Linked DNA regions of Homo sapiens: regions 1, 3 and 4 are each reported to be linked to region 2. Evidence: microRNA targets listed by miRTarBase, many of them from high-throughput screens and not tested one by one. Region 2 holds a microRNA gene; each other region holds the end of a gene's coding sequence. Distances are between the middles of the regions.
The links. Region 2 holds the annotated microRNA hsa-miR-4793-3p (UCUGCACUGUGAGUUGGCUGGCU, at 2,099-2,121, shown strand). A microRNA usually pairs through its seed, bases 2 to 8, with sites in the 3' UTR of a target mRNA and lowers its output. Matches are read on the target gene's strand: a 7mer-m8 pairs with bases 2 to 8, a 7mer-A1 pairs with bases 2 to 7 and ends in A, and an 8mer does both.

Region 1 (3,089 bases), 110 Mb from region 2:
CATTTCACTAAGATGTCTATCATGTCAAATGTTCCCTTGGCATAAATAGCAGAAGTTTCTATGAAGGGCTTTCTTTTATGTCATTTTACTGAAAAATCAAAGTAGGCAGGTCTGCAATTAGTATCCTCATTTCACATGTTAGGATGCTGAAGCAAAGGAGGTGAATGATTCAAAGTATTCTGTGCTCATATCTTTAGCTCTTTGACTCCTCATAACTAGAGAGTGCCAGGAAAAATGCTCTTATTTCATTTTCCTTGAGAATATACTTACTTGTCAGAAATGAAAACTCAACCTGTATTATCAGTACCCATCATTTTGTAAGAAATCAATGTTTCGTAAAACACTTAAGGTCTCATGTATGTCCAAATTATTATCATTAATCAAGTGACATGAAAGGAATTATTCTGTTTTATAGACTCACCATATAAGGATATTAAAGAAGGCTAGCTTGAATTAGGCAATATGTTTGATCATGTTCTATGCAGTCCTTTTTATTAAATTTGATTTGGCTTGTGTGGTAATATTGTGGTCTTTGATAGGAATGCAGGTAAACGAAGTTAATAATATATAAAAATGAATCATGTTGAAAACTAGGGAGGAAGGAAGTAGTTACCGAATTCCTGTAGGGACCATAGTTTAGTTCATTAAAAAAATTTGATTTTCGGCCAGGCATGGTGGCTCATGCCTGTAATCCCAGCACTTTGGGAGGCCGAGGTGGGTGGATCATGAGGTCAAGAGATCGAGACCATCCGGGCTAACACGGTGAAACCCCGTCTCTACTAAAAATACACACACAAAAAATTAGCTGGGCATGGTGGCAGGCGCCTGTAGTCCCAGCTACTCAGGAGGCTGAGGCAGGAGAATGGCATGAACCTGGGAGGCGGAGCTTGCAGTGAGCCGAGATCGCACCAATGCACTCCAGCCTGGATGACAGAGTAAGACTCTGTCTCAAACCACCGCCCTCCCCCCCAAAAAAAACCCCAAAAAACAATTCTGTCACAGTTCAAGCTTCTGTATTTGGGGTACTTGCCACAGAGGAACACTGGTATTAAATATAATTGAAGTAGACCAGATTTTCACTGTTTTATAGATAAGGAAGATCAGGGATATTGAGAAAACTGCCTAGCCCAGGTCCTCTGGAGAATCATTAGTGGCCCAAATGATAACCCATATTCTTGCCCAGACCACTAACATATACTTTCCAATAGGGTGATAGTACTTCTATAGTTTATAAGTTATACAAAGTATGAAATAAAAATATTTCATAAACTGTAACCCCTTTTTAAGTCACTAAAATTGTATACATCTATGTTAAAAACCACACAAATCTCGGTTCATTTGGGGCACTTTTATTTACAGCCAAGGAAAAAAGAAAACTAGCATCTATTTAGAATGGGAAAGCATGTTTGTATGAAAACAAATATTTCATCATCACTTATTTTCTATACTGTTTGCAACTAAGTTTTACATTTTTCATTTTCAACAGAGATTTGAATTTTAATGTCCCAGAAATATAAAGAAGATGGCATTAAAATGTCCTATATGTTGGCAGTCCTACCCTGAAGACTTTTTTTGCTTATCTTTTGTTCTGAGCTACAGTCTTCGCAGAGACTAAATTAGTGACTGGACAACAGAAGAAAATAGACCATCCTGGCTAAAATGGTGAAACCCCATCTCTACTAAAAACACAAAAAATTAGCTGGGCATGTTAGCGGGTGCCTGTAGTCCCAGCTACTCGGGAGGCTGAGGCAAGAAAATGGCGTGAACCTGGGAGGCGGAGCTTGCAGTGAGCTGAGATCGCGCCACTGCACTCCAGCATGGGGGATAGAGCGAGACTCCGTCTCAAAAAAAAAAAAAAAAAAAAAAAAAAGAAAATAGAAACGGGAAATATTCATGTCAGCTGTTAAAAACCAGTTTTGTAAAGCAAGGCCTAAAAGTCCTATCTCTGGCATGTTTAGTATGGAACGTATAGTTGATTGTCATTCAGCTACTAGAGAAAGGTATTCTACAATGGCAGATAGCCTTATCAAAACAATTAGCCGGCTTTCTCCACAGGGAATAGCAGTGGGGTAAGTAAGACTGAAGTGAGAGCTCTTATCAGTTTTCTCAGAAATGATTTCTCCATCATAGGTATTTGGCCAACTGGTTAGGTCTAGCATGAACATGTGATTTCTAAAACAATGAGCTGAGATCTGCTAACATGTTGTAAAGGAGCATCTAGTAGAAGCTGATCTCTAAGCAAAATCACCAATTTATTTAAGTTTCAAAAATTTTTTTTCCATAAATATGTTCTTTAACATGCACATTCTGCTTACATTGTTTAGGGTGCTTTTTATTGTGCCTAAAAATTTGCAATATGGTGAAATAAAATATTTAAAAATGGTTGAATACCATACGGAAGATGAAATCTCATATTTATAGCATGTAATTCAATTCTCATGTATGCATAATTAATCAAAATTGTGTCTTTAAATGACATCTTGACATTTTTTGAATTGCACTAAGAAACACTAGTGTCTACCATTCATTTTAACAGACTTATTTATGTTTAGCTTTATTAACAGTATAACATTTTCATGCAATCTTAAATTTTGTTTTAATTTTTACAATGTTTGATTTAATTCAAATTAACAAATATTCAAGCCTACATGAGAGACAAATGAAATGAGACTACCTTTATATATAATCAGCAAAATTCTTTTTAAGAGTAAAAAGTTAATATTGGGATTTAAAAACCTAAATTTCCAATGTTACTGCTGACAATCCAATCCAACTATATGTATATTACTTAGGCCACAGGACTGCCCATTAGTCTTTCTTGTCGGAGAGCAATTAATCTCTTGAACCATTTTTCCTCAGCATCAGCTTTCTCGATAAATAACTGAAATAAGAAAAGAAAAAGAAAAAATGTTACTGTCTCCCAATAACTTGAATTTGACCTAAAATGACAGAACTCACCTTTGTAGAATATATCTCTCAACACAAGATTTGGATACTGTTTAACTCTTGATGACCTCTTAATTGATGACTATCTATTTGGAATTAGTAATGCTCAGAAATTCTTGGAGTAAAAGAACTACTAGTATCAA
Region 2 (3,089 bases):
TGAGGCAAGCAGGCTGAGCATGGGGAGGTCAGCAGTGCGTAAGCCCAGATGGGTGTCTCCCCAGGCTTCCTCAGAACCCCGTCATGAACTCCCCGGTGGTCAGCGTGGCTGTGTTCCACGGACGCAACTTCCTAAGGGGAATCCTGGAGTCCCCCATCAGCCTAGAGTTTCGCCTGCTACAGACAGCGAATCGGAGCAAGGCGATCTGTGTGCAGTGGGACCCACCTGGCCTGTGAGGACCCCCATTCTGGAAACCCTTGGTCCCGTTAGCCCTTGGGAGGCCAACTAATAGTCCCAGCCTTCCCCTGGGGCCCCCACTAGTGCTGTTGTGCAACCCGGACCATGAGGAATGCTGTACCCCAACTCCAGGCACCCTCAGCCCTTCCCATGATCTCTCACAAACCCCTGCCTGACACTGGGTCACAGTTGTGTCTAACTGCCCTGTGGCTGCAGGGCGGAGCAGCATGGTGTGTGGACAGCACGGGACTGCGAGCTGGTGCACAGGAATGGGTCCCACGCACGGTGTCGCTGCAGCCGGACAGGGACCTTTGGGGTCCTCATGGATGCCTCTCCCCGTGAGGTGGGGCTGTGTTCAGTGTCCCAAGGAAGTGGGGGGTCAAAGGGACACGGGGATTCTGCCCAACAACCCATCAACCATCCCTGTCTCTGTAGAGGCTGGAGGGCGACCTGGAGCTGCTGGCTGTGTTCACCCACGTGGTCGTGGCTGTGTCTGTGGCTGCGCTGGTGCTGACTGCAGCCATCCTGCTGAGCCTGCGCAGCCTCAAGTCCAATGTGCGTGGGATCCATGCCAATGTGGCAGCCGCCCTGGGGGTGGCAGAGCTCCTCTTCCTGCTGGGGATTCACAGGACCCACAATCAGGTGCAGGATCAGGGCCAGGGAACTTGTGTCCTGATGACCCTACTGGCCCAGGAGGCCTGGGGCCAAAACTCAGGGTCAGAGGTCAGGGATGCTCAGGTTGGGGCCAGGGTTTTCAGCAGGATGCTGGGGTAAGATATTGTGGTTTAGGGGTGAGAGGTGGGAAGCAGATGCCTGGGGTAGGGGTCAGAGGTGGGTGAGGCAGGAGAGGTCCTGACACGCCCCCCTGCCCTCAGCTGGTGTGCACTGCAGTCGCCATCCTCCTGCACTACTTCTTCCTCAGCACCTTCGCGTGGCTCTTCGTGCAGGGGCTGCACCTCTACCGCATGCAGGTTGAGCCACGCAACGTGGACCGCGGCGCCATGCGCTTCTACCATGCCCTGGGCTGGGGCGTCCCTGCTGTGCTGCTGGGTGAGGGCTGTGACCCCCAACCTCCAACCATCACATGGCCTGACCCCTGACCCTGTCCCCACTCCTGCTCATGACCCCCAACCTCAAACCCCAAGCCATCTATTCATGGGGTTGCTGCTCTGCCCTCACCCATGCTTTCTCCCATACATGGGCTGGTCAGCAGCTCTGGAACACACACCCTCAGTCCTACCCTTTCTCTTCCCAAGGCCTTGCTGTGGGCCTGGACCCTGAGGGCTATGGGAACCCTGACTTCTGCTGGATCTCAGTCCACGAGCCCCTCATCTGGAGCTTTGCTGGCCCTGTTGTCCTGGTCATAGTGGTGAGTGCCCTGGACTTGGTGCCCCCTCTGTACTTCCCTCCCTCATTGGGGGAGGAGGTGCAGTGGACTCAGCTGAGGGCGGTCAGGTGGCATTCTGCAGGCTTCCTGGGCTCGGCCTTCATTTTTTCTGTCCTCTGGTCAGTAGCCACCCCCATTCAACTGGCATGGAGATGGGGGCGCGGGGTCAGAGATTCAGTTGCCTGTCCCTGCCTCTGTCTCTGCTTCTCTCTCTCAGTCCCTCTCTGGTTCCCAATTTCTTTTTCTGTGATGCTAAGCTCCTTTGGTGTGTGTGTATATGTGTGAATTTCTCACTGGTTCTGCCTCTCTCCGTGAATCTTAGTCTCTCTCTGTCTCTCATTGCCTCTCTCTCTCTCTCTCTCTCTGCCCTGCCCGGCCCCACATGTCTGGCCGTGGGTCCAGATGAACGGGACCATGTTTCTCCTCGCTGCCCGCACATCCTGCTCCACAGGGCAGAGGGAGGCCAAGAAGACCTCTGCACTGTGAGTTGGCTGGCTGGAGGAAGGGGGCTTCTCAGGATGGCAGGTCCCTCCTGGGTGGGGTCTGGGGCCCCCAGATCTTCCCTGGTGCAGGTTGGGCTCCAAGTTCTAGATGAAGGAATGAAGTCACACCTGCCCTGACCTGTGGTCCCTCTCTGGCGCCCTCGCTATACTGTAGCCCCACATGTGCTTCTGCCCTGCTGTCTCTCCTTGTCCTCTGGGTCCCCCCAGAGTCTCCCATGGCCTGGGTGGCTCACTTTGCCCCCTGCCCTGTGTGTTCCCACCTGTCTTCCGTGCCCTCCCTTGTGGCTCCCATACCCCTGTGTTTTCCCCACGTGTCCTCATGGCTCTTTGACTGCTCTCCTGTTTCTTTGTGGGACCTCCCATCTCCCCCAGTGTCCTCCAGAGACCTCCATGTTCCCGTGTGAGTTCCTTTTTTTCACGTTTCGTGTGTGGCCCCTGTGTGTCCTCCCGTGTTCCCTGCATGAGTCCTACATGAGCCTTGCATGTCCTCCTGTGTCTTCCCATGTCCCCACAGCAGGACCCTTCGCAGCTCCTTCCTGCTGCTTCTGCTGGTCAGTGCCTCCTGGCTCTTTGGGCTCCTGGCAGTCAACCACAGCATCCTAGCCTTCCACTACCTCCATGCTGGACTCTGCGGCCTCCAGGTGACTCTGGTGCCCCTCCCTTGCCCCAGAACCAGGTGGGCCTTCAGTAGGCTGGGGCCATCCCTAGGCAGACGTTGACCCTAGGCCTGGAGCTGACTCTTACTGGATAACTTTGCCAGGCTGGGTACTACCCCAGACCAGACACTGGCCCTAGCTGCTGCCCCCAGGCCTGGAGCTGACTCTAACTTAGGCACTGATCCCAGACTGAGTGCTGATCTTGGATCGACCTTCACCAACACCAAGGCTCCCGACCCCTTGCTGATCCACACCGACCTTACAGACTCCAGCCACTCCTGCTGCTCCATCCTCTCCCCTGCTGAC
Region 3 (3,077 bases), 90 Mb from region 2:
GCGGCTGCTCTGAGGCAGGCAGCGCTTCGCTAGAACCACTCAGCTCGTCCCGCGCCGCCGCCGGCTGCCTGAACCAGGTTCCGCTGTCCCCTTTCCTAGCGGGACCCCGAAACACCCGGCGGCTTCCCGCTCCTGAGCGGGAGAGAATAGAGCTTGCTGCAACCCTCTGCTTGGAGGGATGGCCTCTGCGGTGCTTGGCTAGCAAAGGGAAGCTTCACTGTGTCTATTAGTACATCCCCATACACTCCACGCCTCAACAACTGTCAGCACTCACTCCCTCCCGGCCCCTCACAGGGCCCTTTGCACCCACACCTCAGGGACTCGGTGTCCCTCCACTCAGGTCACGTTACTCCATCCACTTCTCTCTCCTTCTCCCTCTGTCAACTCCAAATCCCCTCTAGTTCTCCCTCCCCTCCTACTTCTCTCACACTCACCAGCTACACGTACTAATTCAGATTTTGCACATGTTGGTGGAAAACATGTCAAGCCAATGTGCAGACCCTAAGGCTTTTCACACGCTGCTCACTTTCGCATCTCACGGTGCAGAAGGACCAATGGGCTCCAGGTTTACAAGCCTGACTCCGAGAAGCCTGTTGATTCTCTGATGTCCTTGGCCTGTGATTCGGGTGACTGGGCTGCCACCTGGGTGTTTTCATGATGGGACTGCCGCACAGACCACAGAGAAGCTCAGGTACTGAGCACGTTCCAGATACACTTTAACATGCACAGGCCACTCACACAGGCTTTATCTCTGTCTCGAAACTCTGCTGAGTTTGCTGCTCAGACCAACAAGGTGCAGCAGCAGACACCCACATAGCACCAGGTCTGAAGCCAGTGGGTATTAGTCTGCCTGGTTGGGATTAGCAAAGTCAGTTACTCACATATGTGCTTGGGAGAGAATAGGGGAGTGGAGAGAGAGAGAGAGATATTGAGGAAGAGGAAAGAGAAGCGACCTCCTACTCTGGGAAGAACTCACACATGAGAGCTGTTTCCTGTTGTTAAGTGTCTCACTGAGCTCCCCTCTTTCTCCCCCAGGAAGGGCTTGAGAGGCAGTAGACCAGAGCTCTGGGCTCCTCTTTACCTTGCTGATGTTGGGGTATGAGTCCTCCAACACCATTTTGTCCCAAGGAGTATGTGCCCCATCGTCAATCAGGCAGAATGCAGGGCAGTTGTCGGCCTTTTTCATGGTGGAGGCCAACTGGGAAAAAGGCAGAAGGGTCTGGGTCCTGGGCCAAGTGAGGCCCTCTTCCCTCCAAAGACCCGTGGGATGCTCTCAGAGGCGGATTCTAGGGTGGTGGGAGCTGCTGACAAGTTTCCTCTGATATCCCTCATGACATCTATGGCCCAAAGCCATTTTGTTCAGCTCTGAACAGTGAGTGCCTTGCCAGTAGGCCTCAGGCTTGCTGGGGAACATGATGTGTTCTTAAAAGTTGCCTTGTTGCCTTTCTCCACACCCAGACTGTAAGCGCTGATGGGCAGAGACTCTGCCCTCCACTTCTCACTCAGTGCTCCCCACCAGGATGGGCTTAATGCCTTTTAATAGAATTAGAAAATGGTTCTGCTGGACAGAATTGGGAAATGCCACTTTCCTTATAATGAAGTTATAATGAAGTTAGAATTTCCAAGAAAGGGACTGTAGCTGAGGAAAAGCGGTTTGATCATTGACAGCCAGCTCAGGATCTGAGAGTTCTTTGCCATTTGGGGTTATTATAGCTGCATGGCCATGGTGCTGAACCTTAGGCAAGGGCAAGGACACCTCCCTAGTTCCCAGTCATGGTGAGGACCTGTCTGAAACATTCAAACTAGACTTTACTGGAAACAGAGAAGTCTCTGCATTCAGGGCAGCTGGCTTGCAAGGTAAGGCCTGCAGTCTCCACCCGCACGCTAACCCATGAGGGGATGCCAGAGAGAGCCCTTCCCCCTTGGTCCTCATTCCTGGCTCAATTTTCTCCCACAAAGCGGGCACTTTCTAAAGATGATAGGCAACTGCCATGGAGGAAGGCAGTTTTAGATGCCTAGCTGGCACAAAGTCCAGAGGAAGGGAGGGAGAAGGGCTGAGTTTTGTATTACTGTTCTACCTTTGGAGATTTTCCTCATGCCAAGATAGGGTGTGTGTGTGTGTGTGTGTGTATGTGTGTGTGTATGTGTGCACTATAACTTTATGAAACACTTTTTTTTTTTTTGAGACAGGGTCTCACTCTGTTGCCCAAGCTGGAGTGCAGTGGTGCAATCTTGGCTTACCGCAGTCTCCACCTCCCAGGCTCAAGTGATCCTCCCATCTCAGCCTCAGCCTCCCAAGTAGCTGGGACTATGGGTGTGAGCCAACACACTCAGCTAATTTTTTTTTTTTTTTTTTGGTATTTTTGGTAGAGACAGGGTTTTACCATGTGGGCCCAACTGGTCTTGAGCTCCTGAGCTCAGGGTGATTTGCCTGCTTCAACTTCCCAAAGTGTTGGGATTACAGGTGTGAGCCACCATGCCCAGTCAGTTTTTTATTTTTTATTTAAACAGTTTTGGGGGAACAGGTGGTTTTTGCTTACATGGATAAGTTCTTTAATGGTAATTTCTGAGATTTTGGTGCACTTGTCACCCGAGCATTGTACACGGTACCCAGTGTGTAATCTTTTATCCCTCATCCCCCTCCTACGCTTCCCCCCCCGAGTCCCCATTATATAATTCTTTTTTTCTTCTTTTTGAGACAGAGTCTCACTCTGTTGCCCAGGCTGGAGTGCAGTGGCATGAACTTGGCTTACTGCAGCCTCCTGAGTTCAAGTGATTCTCCTGCCTGAACCTCCTGTGTAGCTGGGACTACAGGCATGCACCACCATGCCCAGCTAATTTTTGTATTTTTTGTAGAGATGGGGTTTCACCATGTTGGCCAGGCTAGTCTTGAACTCCTAACCTCAAGTGATCTGCCTATTTTGGCCTCCCAAAGTGTTGGGATTACAGGCGTGCGCCACTGCGCCTGGTCCATTATGTCATTCTTATGCCTTTGCATCTTCATAGCTTAGCTCCCACTTATAAATGAAAACACAGGATATTTGGTTTTCCATACTTGAGTTACTTCACTTAGTATA
Region 4 (3,086 bases), not on the chromosome of region 2:
TTTTCTCTTTCTTCCTGCCAAACCTTGCAGGCAATACAGTACGGTACTGAGGATAACAGTACTGCAGTAGTAGTGCCTTTTGGTGCCTGGGGAAAATATAAGAACTCTGAAATCAACTTCTCATTCAGCAGAAGCTTTGCCTCCAGTGGACGATGGGCCTGATTACCAGCTGGGACTTAGAGTTTCTGTGCAACAGTTTTTCACTGAGCATGTCAAGAAACTGATAAGATCAAAAAGGTCTCCTAACTCACTAGATCAGCGCACAAGTCAGTGTAAACCACTTAGATAGTAGTTTTTTCATAAATGCTCATCATATTTATGTTCCGCTGTACATGTTCAGTATAAATATATGTGTAGTGAAGCTACTGTGAGTCTTTAAATGGAAAGAGCAAATGAGAAGTGGTTTGGATACACTTGATGAGAGATGAGAGTGTCACATTAATAATTTTTAAGACTCTTAGGCAGCTATGGGTTTCTTTTGATCATTTTTGTTCTTTATTCATTTGAACACGTTTTTGAAGTTCTTCAAAACTAGTCAGTTTGAATTTTGACAGCTATTCAATATGTGATCTCCAAGTTTAAAAAAATTTTTTTCCAGACTTCCCTAATCCTAAAATGCGAGTTTTTATTTTTAATAACTGTACCAAGGAATAAGTATGAAAACAGTTCTCTGTTACCATATTTTGTATTCTGGACCACTTACTGGTGAAAGCAACCATGCAAAAGAAATTAATTTGGCCAGGCACAGTGGCTCATGCCTGTAATCCCAGCACTTTGAGAGGCCAAGGTGGGTAGATCATCTGAGGTCAGGAATTCAAGACCAGCCTGGCCAACATGGTGAAACCCTGTCTCTAGTAAAAATCCAAAAAAAAAAAAAAAAAAAAAAAAAAAATTGGCTGGGCGTGGTGGCAGACACCTGTAATCCCAGCTACTCGGGAGGCTGAGGAAAGAGGAATCACTTGAACCCAGGAGATGGGGGTTGCAGTGAGCTGAGATCATGCCATTGCACTCCAGCCTGGGCAGCAAGAGCGAAAAACTCCATCTCAAAAAAAAAAAAAAAAAGAAAGAAAAGAAATTAATTCAGATGATGTGACATTACTAAATTGTATACATATTTATAAATGTGTATTTCAGCTGTCTCATCAGCCCTCCCCTCCATTTATTCCTATTTTTCTGTAGTTAAGAATACTGTAAAAATGTGACTATTCCTTAATATCAGAAAAGAATGCACAGGCTGAGTCTTCCGGTCAAAAGTTAAATACTGATGGAATCAAGTATTTTGTATGAAGTTCTCATTTGTTATCTCTAACGCTATTTTGTGTTTTGCATATAGTATTATAGTATGTGTATATCACTTTTTGTATAGAGTAAGCAATTGAATAATTTGTTAATAAAAATAATACCACATTGACTGATACTGCTATAGACATAGCTTGAGTTTTATGTCTCCTTTTTGCTCATTTTCTAAGACTTAGGAGAAAGAATAAATCTAAAATGACCATTAAAACATTCTCCATTTCAGCTTGCTGTGTAACTTAGGAAGTATAAAACTATACTTCTCTTTATCTGCATGTAAGTTTGCTGTTAAAATGTGAATTTCTAAATGTGTATTTGGAATTATTTCCGTAGTTTATTTCTGCAAACTATGTAAATTTGTTATATGTGTGAGTATGTGTACATATGTATATTTTAGAGTAATATAAAATTAAAGGGAACAATCTTGCATAGCTCTTTCACCAGTTTTAAATTATTGATACGTTATTTTTAAGGACTCTTGACAAACTAGGGGCAATTTTCTTATAGTGGAGACCCAGTGATTATCAGCAGATGAGGAAATAGGTTAAAAATTGCTATATGGCAATTTGTATATAAAGTAATAGGATGTGAGAAAAATACTGAATCTTAAGAATGACATGGAATTCTGTGGCAGAAACAAAAGAAAAAGTTGATGTAGTATATACCTTCAACTGTGTTTTGAGTTGACTTTTTTTTTTTTCTTTAAGCTTTGGGTAAAAATGTATGAGGAGGGAGAGGGCCCAATATAAATATTTACATCTTCTTACCTTTTTGGAAATGGAAGAAGATAAATCTTGAGTTTTTCTGCCTATATTAATCAGGAATTGCCCTTTGAAAAAAGTGCTAAATAAATATTTTGATTTTTTTTTTCAAGGGAAGTTAGGTGAAAGAAGGAAAAACATCACAGGAAAGACTGTTAACATTCTGTTTGTTGTCTGAGAGGTGAGGAACCAAAGGGAGGCAACTAAAGCGGGAAACCATCTTGCTTTTTCTAATCAGTTCTTGGAACAGAAATGTGGAAGCTACCTTTAGGAACATGGAGAATTTCCAAACCAACAGGCAAAGGAAAACTAACGCACAAAAATGACATTCTGAAGATGCAGGTTTCAGCCAGGCGCGGTGGCTCAAGCCTGTAATCCTAGCACTTTGGGAGGCCAAGGCAGGTGGATCACCTGAGGTCAAGAGTTAGAGACCAGCCTGGCCAACATGGTGAAACCTCATCTTGACCAAAAAATGCAAAAATTAGCCAGGCGTGGTGGTGGGTGCCTGTAATCCCAGCTACTGGGGAGGCTGAGGAAGGAGAATTGCTTGAACCTGGGAGGCGGAGGTTGCAGTGAGTCGAGATCGCGCCATTGCACTCCAGCCTGGACAGCAGAGCAAAAACTCCATCTCAGATAAATAAATAAACAAATATGCAGGTTTCATTTTTGTTTTGAATGCTTTACATTACTATTCCTATCTTTTACTTTAAAAACTAAGATGAGGAGTGATGTTGTCAAGTTCAAAGGCATGAGGGTGATTGATGGATTGAGGTAGATAGCCAAGTTTGTCTGTTTTTGTTTTTTATAGTTACAGAGTCTCACTTTGTTGTCCAGGCTGAAGTGCAGTGGTGCAATCATAGCTCACTGAGATTGCCAGGTTCGACAAAGAGGAATTTATAGGATGGGGATATAGGGTAGACTTGACTCTGCTTTATCCGGGAAAGCTTTTAAAACTCTGAGCCAGTTAACTTTGAGTAAGCATAAAACATACTGTATTGGTGTTTGTATTTTTCATGCCACAATATTAAA

Region 1: the mRNA of RSRC1 is a reported target of hsa-miR-4793-3p. Seed matches in the 3' UTR shown: 7mer-m8 at 1,806-1,812.
Region 3: the mRNA of FOXL2NB is a reported target of hsa-miR-4793-3p. Seed matches in the 3' UTR shown: 7mer-A1 at 493-499, 7mer-A1 at 541-547, 7mer-m8 at 2,216-2,222 and 7mer-m8 at 2,728-2,734.
Region 4: miRTarBase lists PPM1K as a target of hsa-miR-4793-3p. Seed matches in the 3' UTR shown: 7mer-m8 at 2,897-2,903.

What each region holds. Positions count from the first base shown.
Region 1 is chr3:158,543,975-158,547,063 of GRCh38, reverse strand. RSRC1 (arginine and serine rich coiled-coil 1) reads right to left here. Exons shown (of 10, transcript NM_001271838.2): 10 at 1,334-2,881. The coding sequence ends at 2,789. MLF1-DT (MLF1 divergent transcript) reads left to right here. Exons shown (of 5, transcript NR_104147.1): 5 at 1,487-1,844. Among named protein-coding and RNA genes, the nearest start is that of UC.134, 19 kb to the right of the region's middle.
Region 2 is chr3:48,643,233-48,646,321 of GRCh38, reverse strand. MIR4793 (microRNA 4793) reads left to right here and starts at 2,042; the gene lies at 2,042-2,128. It overlaps CELSR3 (cadherin EGF LAG seven-pass G-type receptor 3), which reads left to right. Exons shown (of 35, transcript NM_001407.3): 22 at 65-232; 23 at 454-580; 24 at 673-879; 25 at 1,113-1,287; 26 at 1,494-1,606; 27 at 2,027-2,106; 28 at 2,645-2,768.
Region 3 is chr3:138,950,343-138,953,419 of GRCh38, forward strand. FOXL2NB (FOXL2 neighbor) reads left to right here. Exons shown (of 3, transcript NM_001040061.3): 3 at 1-3,077. The coding sequence ends at 230. Among named protein-coding and RNA genes, the nearest start is that of FOXL2NB, 4.7 kb to the left of the region's middle.
Region 4 is chr4:88,259,671-88,262,756 of GRCh38, reverse strand. It overlaps PPM1K (protein phosphatase, Mg2+/Mn2+ dependent 1K), which reads left to right. Exons shown (of 7, transcript NM_152542.5): 7 at 31-3,086. The coding sequence ends at 162. Among named protein-coding and RNA genes, the nearest start is that of PPM1K, 23 kb to the left of the region's middle.